Linked DNA regions of Homo sapiens. The protein of the gene in region 1 purifies or fractionates together with the protein of each later gene. This does not show direct contact. Each region holds a gene or a part of one and is shown in the gene's direction. Other genes may lie near its edges.

Region 1 (4,448 bases):
TCATCCCGTAGCCCCAACCCGGCCTAAAGCCGAGAAGACGCCAGAGTGCGCTGCTGAAATTCCCGCGGAGTCCGGTGTGCTGGAGAGCCGCAGCGGGGTGAACTCCCGGCCCCGTCTCTGCGTAGGAGGTGGTTCGCAAAGTGGCCCCGGGAGCCGGGACTGGTACCCGGTTCCCCACGGCACCGTCCGGAGCTCTCCAGCCACGAGGCGCAGAAGTGGCCTGCCAGCGCCTTCCCAGGCTCAGGGAGGCGAGGAGGCCCGTGCACTTGGCATCTTCTCCCGGGAGCCGCACGGCCAGGGCCGCGGCGAAACGGAGCCCATCTCAAGTGCGCCGCGCCTGGCCGCGTCCTGTAGCCCGACGAGGCTGAGGATGGAGAGGGGAGACGCAGGGAGAAGAGGGACGCGGGACTTGGACCCAAGAGGCCGCTCCGTTGCCGGTCTGGCGGCGGCGCCGACTCGGGTTCGCGCGTTCCACACAAGTTTCCTGTCTGCCTCTGCACACCTGGTGGACAAACCGGGCGTCCAGGCCACACCGTCTTCCCCCTTCGCGGGGGCGCGGGGGATGTTTCCCTCCGGCTGCCAGGGGGCTTTCTGGGTGAAGAGAAAGCCCCTCCCCCCGCGTCTCCCCCACCCCTCCCTCCGAGAACCCGCGGCGCCGACTGCGCCTGCTTCCCCCGAGCTGGCGACTTCTCCGCGGGATTTGCCCTCGCTCAAAGTTTGCACAATTGAAAGAGCCCGCAGAGCTCGGCCGCTCCCCGCTTCCCCAAGGGCGGCGAGGCCGGTCATTGGCAGACGATCGGTTACTACCCAGTAGGGGCCCACGGGAACCCGCATCTGGAGTCGGGGGTGTCACGCCACGCCGGTTCAGTGGCTCGCGGAGAGCGTCCGGGTGCACTTCTGCCAAAGATGTCCCCTGGAGGCCCCGGCCGCGCGGGACTCGGGGGAGAGGCCGCTCCCCCCTCGCTGTCACCAGCGTCCAGGCCGCCGGCCCCTTCCCCGCTGCCCAAACAGTAGAAAAGCAGGCGCCAAGTTGTTTTTGTTAAAAAGGGGACACACCTCGGCCGCGAAACTGCAAACCCGGTGTCAGACAGCTGTAAACCCGTGTCGACAGGTTGTCAGACAGCTGCGGGGGCTGGTCGGGAAGGAGCCCACGGCCTCCGGGCCCACACCCCGCCGCCCCGACGCGCGCGCCCACCGCGAGAGTAGCTGGCCGGGCCGGCACGGGGCACCACGTGCTCGCGGGAGGGGCGGGAGCGGCCGGCGAGGGCGGGCGGGAGGCAGGGAGGGGGCGGGAGGGGAGCCAGGGGCGGGGCCTGCGCTCAAGGGGATGCCAATCAAAGCATCAACTTCAAATTGTGTCTGAAAGCCCCGCCGCCGAGCGGAGGGCGGCCGCCGCAGTCGGCGCGCGATTGCGGATCCGGGCGCAGCCGGGAGCCGGGCGCCTGCGAGCACCGGGCAGAGGAGCCGCGACCGGCCTCCATCTCCCGGCCCGCCCGAGCGCGCCCGGCCGGCCGCCCGCTCCTCCCTAGACCCCTCGCGGCGCCCCCTGCAACCCCCTCCGGCCGGCCTCCGCCTCCCTCCCCGCGCCTTTAATACTCGCCCGCTGCGGCGGTCGCCGAGTCCGCGGACATGTCCTTCCCGCAGCTGGGCTACCCGCAGTACCTGAGCGCCGCGGGGCCGGGCGCCTACGGCGGCGAGCGCCCGGGGGTGCTGGCCGCGGCCGCTGCGGCGGCTGCCGCCGCCTCGTCGGGCCGACCGGGGGCCGCGGAGCTGGGCGGCGGGGCAGGCGCGGCTGCAGTCACCTCGGTGCTGGGCATGTACGCGGCGGCGGGGCCGTACGCGGGCGCGCCCAACTACAGCGCCTTCCTGCCCTACGCCGCGGATCTCAGCCTCTTCTCGCAGATGGTGAGTGCGCCCGGCCTCCCCCGCTTCTCCTCTGTCTCACCCGCGCCAGGGCAAGGGTGGCGGGTCGCCCGGGAGGGAGAGACTACGGGTGGACCTGGTCCGGAAGAGGAACTAGAAAGGTCCGGGGGCAGGTTCCCGGTGGCCGAGGCCGCGGCCCCCGGGGACGCAAGAGGGCTGGGAGGCCGGGCGGGTGACGGCTGGGCCATCTCGGCCTGGGAAAGCGGAAGGCCCGGGCCAGGGAGCGGGTAGCGAGTGAATTCAGAGAGGCCGCAGAAGCAGGCCCGTGGAGCGGTGCCCGCGCTGGAGGTCGGGGGCAAACTCGCCTGGCTCGGCCAGGGCGCCCGGGCAGGCCCACGGGGTTCCTGCAGGTCGGCCCGGCGTAGCGTAGCAGGACTTCCCTTCCTGGCCGCGGGTTCCACTCGCGCGGCCTCTTTAGTTTTCGAACCGAGTCTGGAAAACTTGGTTTTCTCCCTCTTTAGCAGCTCCGAGATAGTTGTATCCGAGTTTGCCAGACAGACCCCTTCTAAGCCTGGTAGAGTCAATCAAAATAATCTTAACAATAGAGGTCCAAAGGGATGGAGAGGTCTCTCCACGGCGTGAGTGCGAATTTGAGATTAAACAAAAATTAAGTTGCAGTAATGTGCTGGTGTCTGAAACGGTGTTTGATTTTACTTTTGTAAGTTGCCCAAGTTTTCATTTCATTTGCACAGAAAGAAAAGCACTTTTCTTCCTGCGTTACATAATGGAGGATTAAAGAAAACAGTGTCCCTTGGCTTAAAACAAATGGTGTCCTCTTAGTCTCCCGTCCCAGTGGGCGTTAGATGTCGGGGCAGGCGGCTGCACACTTAATTCTCCGCGGGGGCATTGGCCTGTCTGCCGGTCCAAATCATCCATTTTCCTTGGTCTGACTGCAAGGTCGGTGCTTAAACTTCGGACGGCTGGTGAATTGTGCGGCGGGCGCGGGGCCCTGGGAGGCAGCCCCCTCCTGGGTCGCTGCCCGCGGGATAAAGCAATTTCCAAGCACCCGCGATATCTCCCCGCTCCCCGCAGGAGAAGCGGGGAGTAAACGCCCCTCAAGTGTGCACAAGCAAAGAGCGGGTTTCCCTGTAACTTTTCTTGTAGTTTTGAAAGAAAGCGGCCCGGCTGCCTTTCAGGTCTCTTACTATCGAAAAAGATCAGCCCCCATTTTGTTCAGGCGGCGGGGAGGCCGGGACGCGATGAGAGATTTACAAGGTGTCCTTTCAAAAAGAATTCCCAGTGGAGACGAGGCTGAAACGTCTTCTTTACAATTACAACCAAAATAATTAGAAAAGCGCAAAGTACATTTTGGAACGATTGGGCAAAAACGAAATCTAGCCGCAGAAATGTTTTCTCTGCGGCCTCAGTCACCAAACTAATTAGTCCAAGAAATCTTCTGGTCTTTACAACTTTCTCAGAGTCCGGAACTCCCTTTGCTAACATTGCAACTAGACCATTTTTTCAGAGGATGAATATTTTTTACAGAAATTGCGAATGCAGTTGTGTGCCATTTGGGAACCCTGCCTGTGTTTGCGGGGGAGGGAGAGAGCTTCAGTGTGAGGACCTGCACCCTTTGTGGAGAGCTGGGGAAGGGAGATGTTTGCTGTTCTGAGTTGTTTTTCCCACCTAGAGGGATAATATGTAAAAATTATTCCCACCCAAAAGGTGTGTGTTTCTCCAGCTCTCCCACTGGTTCTGAGAGAGTAAACTCAAACCCAAACCCTGATTCTAGGCCTAGGTTTCCAAGCCATTATAATTGGGTGTTTGGAAGTCAAAAGATAAAATTGTATTTGAATGTCTGTCTGCGCAATTTATGGTAATAATGAGGCCTAATGAGGTTGTTAGAAAGATAAAATGTTATTTACCAAAAAACCTGATGGGATAATTTGACTTGCTGTGTTTTACTACTGATTATAAAAAGAATATCGATTGCAAATAAATCAGCGCCTCTAAATGCCTGCAAACAGCTAGTGTTTGCTCCCTCCAGATCAAAGTCAAACTTAAGAGATGAAGTAACTGAGAAGAGGCCTAGGATACTGAACCGGTTCCCCTCCTGGCCGCCGGTGGCTCCCAGCCCTTGCGTTAATATTTTACAGGCTAAGCCTTCCTTTTGTATTAAAAAAAAAAATGGTGTTTTTGTTATTGTTGTCGATGATGGCCGGGATTAAAATTTTAAATTACCTGTCACCTCTAAAGACCTTTTAATGTGGGTAAACCATTATATGCAGATTAATTTGGAAGGCAAAGGACTGTGCTTTCGTTTTAAATTGCTGGCGGATTTAGACCGGTAGAAAACCCGGGATGGTTTATTTTGATTGAGCCCCCTCTGGGTGGCAGAGAGGAGGCTTGGGCTCTGGGCCCTTTACGTTTGGAGAAATGGCTTTATCAGCTCAGTTGAAAGGTTTTTCCCTCTAGCTAGTGAAAGATAAACTTGGAAATGCAGGTTTCTCCAGCGGTTGGTGGTGGGGACAGGGGTCGCCTAGGGAACTTGCAGGGGCCGCGGCCTCTGTTGTGCTCTTCTGGAG
Region 2 (3,803 bases), on another chromosome or scaffold:
TAAGTACAAGAGTGTCCCTGCAAGGAGAGTTGTTGGGCTGTCTTCGGAAGGCCTCGATCTCCTTGTCTGGTCCCTGACCTCAGCTCGAGAGGAGGCCCTGGAGCTGGTGGAAGCCCACTGTCCCCTCAGTGTTAGCAGGTGTGACACTGCAGTCGGACCTCCCGTCTTTCCAGACTTCCTTATGGCAGGCACTGCCCCAAGCTTTCTTCTAACCCTCATAGCCACCCCAGGAACTGAGTATGGAAGTCGTTGGCCCCTTACTACCTTTGGAATCAATGGATTTCTCAACCTACTGCCCCTCTAAAGCAAGAGTGGACAGCGTGGCTATTCCCAGGGGCCGGCAGGAACTTCAGACAGGCAAAGCCGACTGCTTACTGAGCAGCTGGAGGATTCTTCCCTCCACAAGGAGGTGTGCTCCCATTTTTCTTGAAAGACATTCTGCGCTCATTTATTTTTTAACCTTCGATGGAGAATGTACAAGGAAAATTACTCTCTGCTGTAAGGAAAACAGTGCAGGAAGGGGGTGACTAGCAGCTGACCCTTGACCTTGGCATTGGGGAGGTGATGTGGGGACCTTAGTGAACAAGAATTTCAGTGAGCTCAGCTCCAGCCAGCTGCGTGTGCACAGGAAACTGGGCCCACTGTTGCATAACTTCTGATTTTTTCTGCCAAGCAAAGGCAGAAATTAAGATTTATGTGAAAGGTCCTGATTTTAAATGTTGGTTTAAATATTTTAAAAACCTTGCATTTGAGCTAACAGAACATGCCTGGAGACAGCTGTGGCCCCAGGGCACCTCCATCATATGCACCCATCCTCTGTGAGAGGTTTTCCGGCTGAAAGCCATAGAAGGGCTCCAGGAAGCATGTTAACCTTCTGAAAAATGGCACCACATATGTTATGGAACTGTGCTGTTTTCCCTGAGGAAGTGAGTCTCTGGCTTTCATCAGACTCTTCAGTCTGAGTACTCTGTGGGATATCAGGATGAATGCAAACAGCCATGGCCCCTGCTCTCATGAAGGGCAGAGTCTGAAAACAGAGACAGTTGTTCATCCAAGGATTCCACCGTTGAGCATTAGTGATAAGTGGAGATGGTATTCAGGAGGAGAGGAACGGGGTCTGTGAGAGACATTTGACAGGGTCCAGGACTGGCCAGAGGACACTCAGGAACTCTCCCCTGCAGAAGTGGCTTGCCAGCCAAGACCTGAAGTGTCAGCTTGTAGTGAATTGAGTGAACAGGCATGTGAGAGGGTGTGTGTTCTAGCCAGAAGCCCCTGAACGAGGGAAGACCATTGTGGCCAGCTGATGGGAGTGATGTGGGCTTGGCTCTGGGCTGGGCTGCACAGGACGTTGTGGGTCACAGTCACAGGGTGTTGTGGGTCACAGTCACAGGCCTGGATTTTATATACAGATGGTCCACTTAGAATTTTTCAACTTCACAATGGTACAGAAGTAGAATTTTGAATTTTGATCTTTTCCTGGGCTCATGATAAACAGTTCAATACTCTTGCAATGCTGGGCACTGAGCTGCAGCTGCAGCTCAGAATGTATTTCAAGAAAAATGGTGACCAGCTACACGATCACCAAGGTAGACAACCAGTACTCTGTGCTGTGCCTGCCGTGTTGCCAGTGATTATGGCCAACTGTAGGCTGAAGTCAGTGTTCTGAGCACATTCCAGGTAGGCTAGGCTAAGCTAGGAGGTTCAGTGGGTTAGATATATTAAATGTGTTTTCTTTCTTTTTCTTTTTTTCAAGACGGAATCTTGCTCTATTGCCCAGGCTGGAGTGCAGTGGCATGATCTTGGCTCACTGCAACCTCCACCTTCTGGGTTCAAGCAATTCTACCTCAGCCTCCTGAGTAGCTAGGATTATAGGCGTGTGCCACCACGCCCAGCTAATTTTTTATATTTTTAGTAGAGATGGGGTTTCGCCACGTTGGCCAGGCTGGTCTCGAACTCCTGACCTCGTGATCCACCCGCCTGGACCTTCCAAAGTGCTGGGATTACAGACGTGAACCACCGCGCCCGGCCTCAATATGTTTTCAACTTAACGGCATTTTCAAATACGATGGGTTTATCAGGACATAACCTCCTCCTAAGTCAGGAAATGTCTGTTCTAAATGCAGTGGGAAGCTGTGGAAGTGTTTTCACCGGGAGTGACAGGATCAGAGTCCTGATTCTGAAGATCACTTTTGGCACCGTGTGATGACTCAGTTCCTGTGGGATACCTTTTAGTAAAGGGAGCTGGTGTCCTGGGAACACAGGACCCAGCAGTGACAGGCCTGGATGGCAAGTCGGGGGAAGTGTCACAGTTAACCAGGCCTCTGTGTGATGTGTGACCGTGGTGCTTGGTGGGACTGCTGCAGCAGGGCCAGGCTTGAGTGTGATTGGACCTGTTGAGGTGTTGGTGCCTTTGAGAAAACAAGTGGAAATGTAGGCAAAGAGAAAGGCCCAGAGCTGCTGAGGGAAGGGGCCTTGTCGATGAATGTGGCAGGCAGGGGTCGGGGATGGGGGTGGGGCCAGGGAGAGATTCCACTGCCTGAGAGCCCAGAGTTCCCTCCTGCAGGTGCTGGCTGGAGTGAGAGGTGCTAGAGGAAAGTGCCTGGTGGCTTCTCAGATTCTGTCCACAGGAAGTGGGCAGGAGACTCCCTACACTAGCCTGGTGCTGACCCAGCAGCCCCAGTTCCTGTCCTTTACCTCCTCCAACCCATTTTGTTTCAGGAACAAGTACTTGTTACTCAACAACCAGGAGCTGAATGAACTCAGTGCCATCTCTCTCAAGGCCAACATCCCTGAGGTGGAAGCTGTCCTCAACACCGACAGGTGAGTGCAGGGGTGCAGCTTTTCCCTCAGCCCATCCCGGCTGCCCACGTTCCCCGGGGGCTCACCGGTGAGCACATCCAGGTATGCACGCGTGTCCTCTCTCACATGCAGCTACAGTGTCCTGAGGGCTCCTGTGTGCCAGGCATTGTATTCATGTCACCTGCATTTTCTCATTGGAGCCTCACAGCAGCCCTAGGAGGGGAGCCCCATCAGTACCTGCACTTGACAGATGAGGTGAGCCTCAGAGAGGTCACCTGCCAGAAGTCATGTGTGCTCCGCACTGCCCCACCGCCTTGTCTCGTGCATTCAGCCCCTTTGCTTATGTGCTCCTTTCTTGCCTGGTGGCATCTGCAGCCAAGCAGGACAGACAGAAGCCTCTTACCTGCTGCCAAGTGTTAGGTTGCATTACCTGGGTTAGGTTTGCCTCACCTGGAGCCAGGCAGTGGGGGGCTAGTCTCACAGGCGTCAGAATACAGTGGACTTTATCCAACAAGAGCCATGATTTCCCAACCTTTTTTGTTTGTTTGTTTTGTTTTGTTTTTTAGACACAAGGTCTTGCTCTTTCTCTCAGGCTGCAGAGCAGTGGTGTTATAGCTCACTGCAGCCACAAACTTCTGAGCTCAAGTGATTCTCCTGCCTCAGCCGCCCGAGTAGCTGGGACTACAGGTGTGCGCCACCATTCCCAGCTAGTGTTTTTACTTTTTTTTTGTAGAGATGGGGTCTCACTATGTTGCCCAGGCTGGTCTCGAACTCCTGGCCTCAAGTGAGCCTCCCAAAGTCCAGGGATTACAGGTGTGAACCACCTCTCCTGGCCTCCCAATCTTTTTTTTCTAAGGTAGCAGAACTCTTCATTCAAATAAAATTGTACCCAGTCCTGCCCTGATGTCTGCAGTGGATCACAGCAGAGCTGCTCTGTTTGAAGGGCCCAGACCCCTGCGTGCCTGGCCGTCTTCCTTCCCCCATGACGGGGCCAGAGTCATTTC

The links.
Region 2: the proteins of IRX1 (region 1) and TRPC4AP purify together in Homo sapiens (affinity purification with mass spectrometry; one large-scale study listed by BioGRID and IntAct). This does not show direct contact.

What each region holds. Positions count from the first base shown.
Region 1 is NC_000005.10:3,594,477-3,598,924, forward strand, and holds the start of IRX1 (iroquois-class homeodomain protein IRX-1), read left to right. Parts: upstream 1-1,355; 5' UTR 1,356-1,629; coding exon 1,630-1,905; intron 1,906-4,448.
Region 2 is NC_000020.11:35,009,204-35,013,006, reverse strand, and holds part of TRPC4AP (short transient receptor potential channel 4-associated protein), read left to right. Parts: intron 1-2,718; coding exon 2,719-2,820; intron 2,821-3,803. UniProt on the Homo sapiens protein: Substrate-recognition component of a DCX (DDB1-CUL4-X-box) E3 ubiquitin-protein ligase complex required for cell cycle control.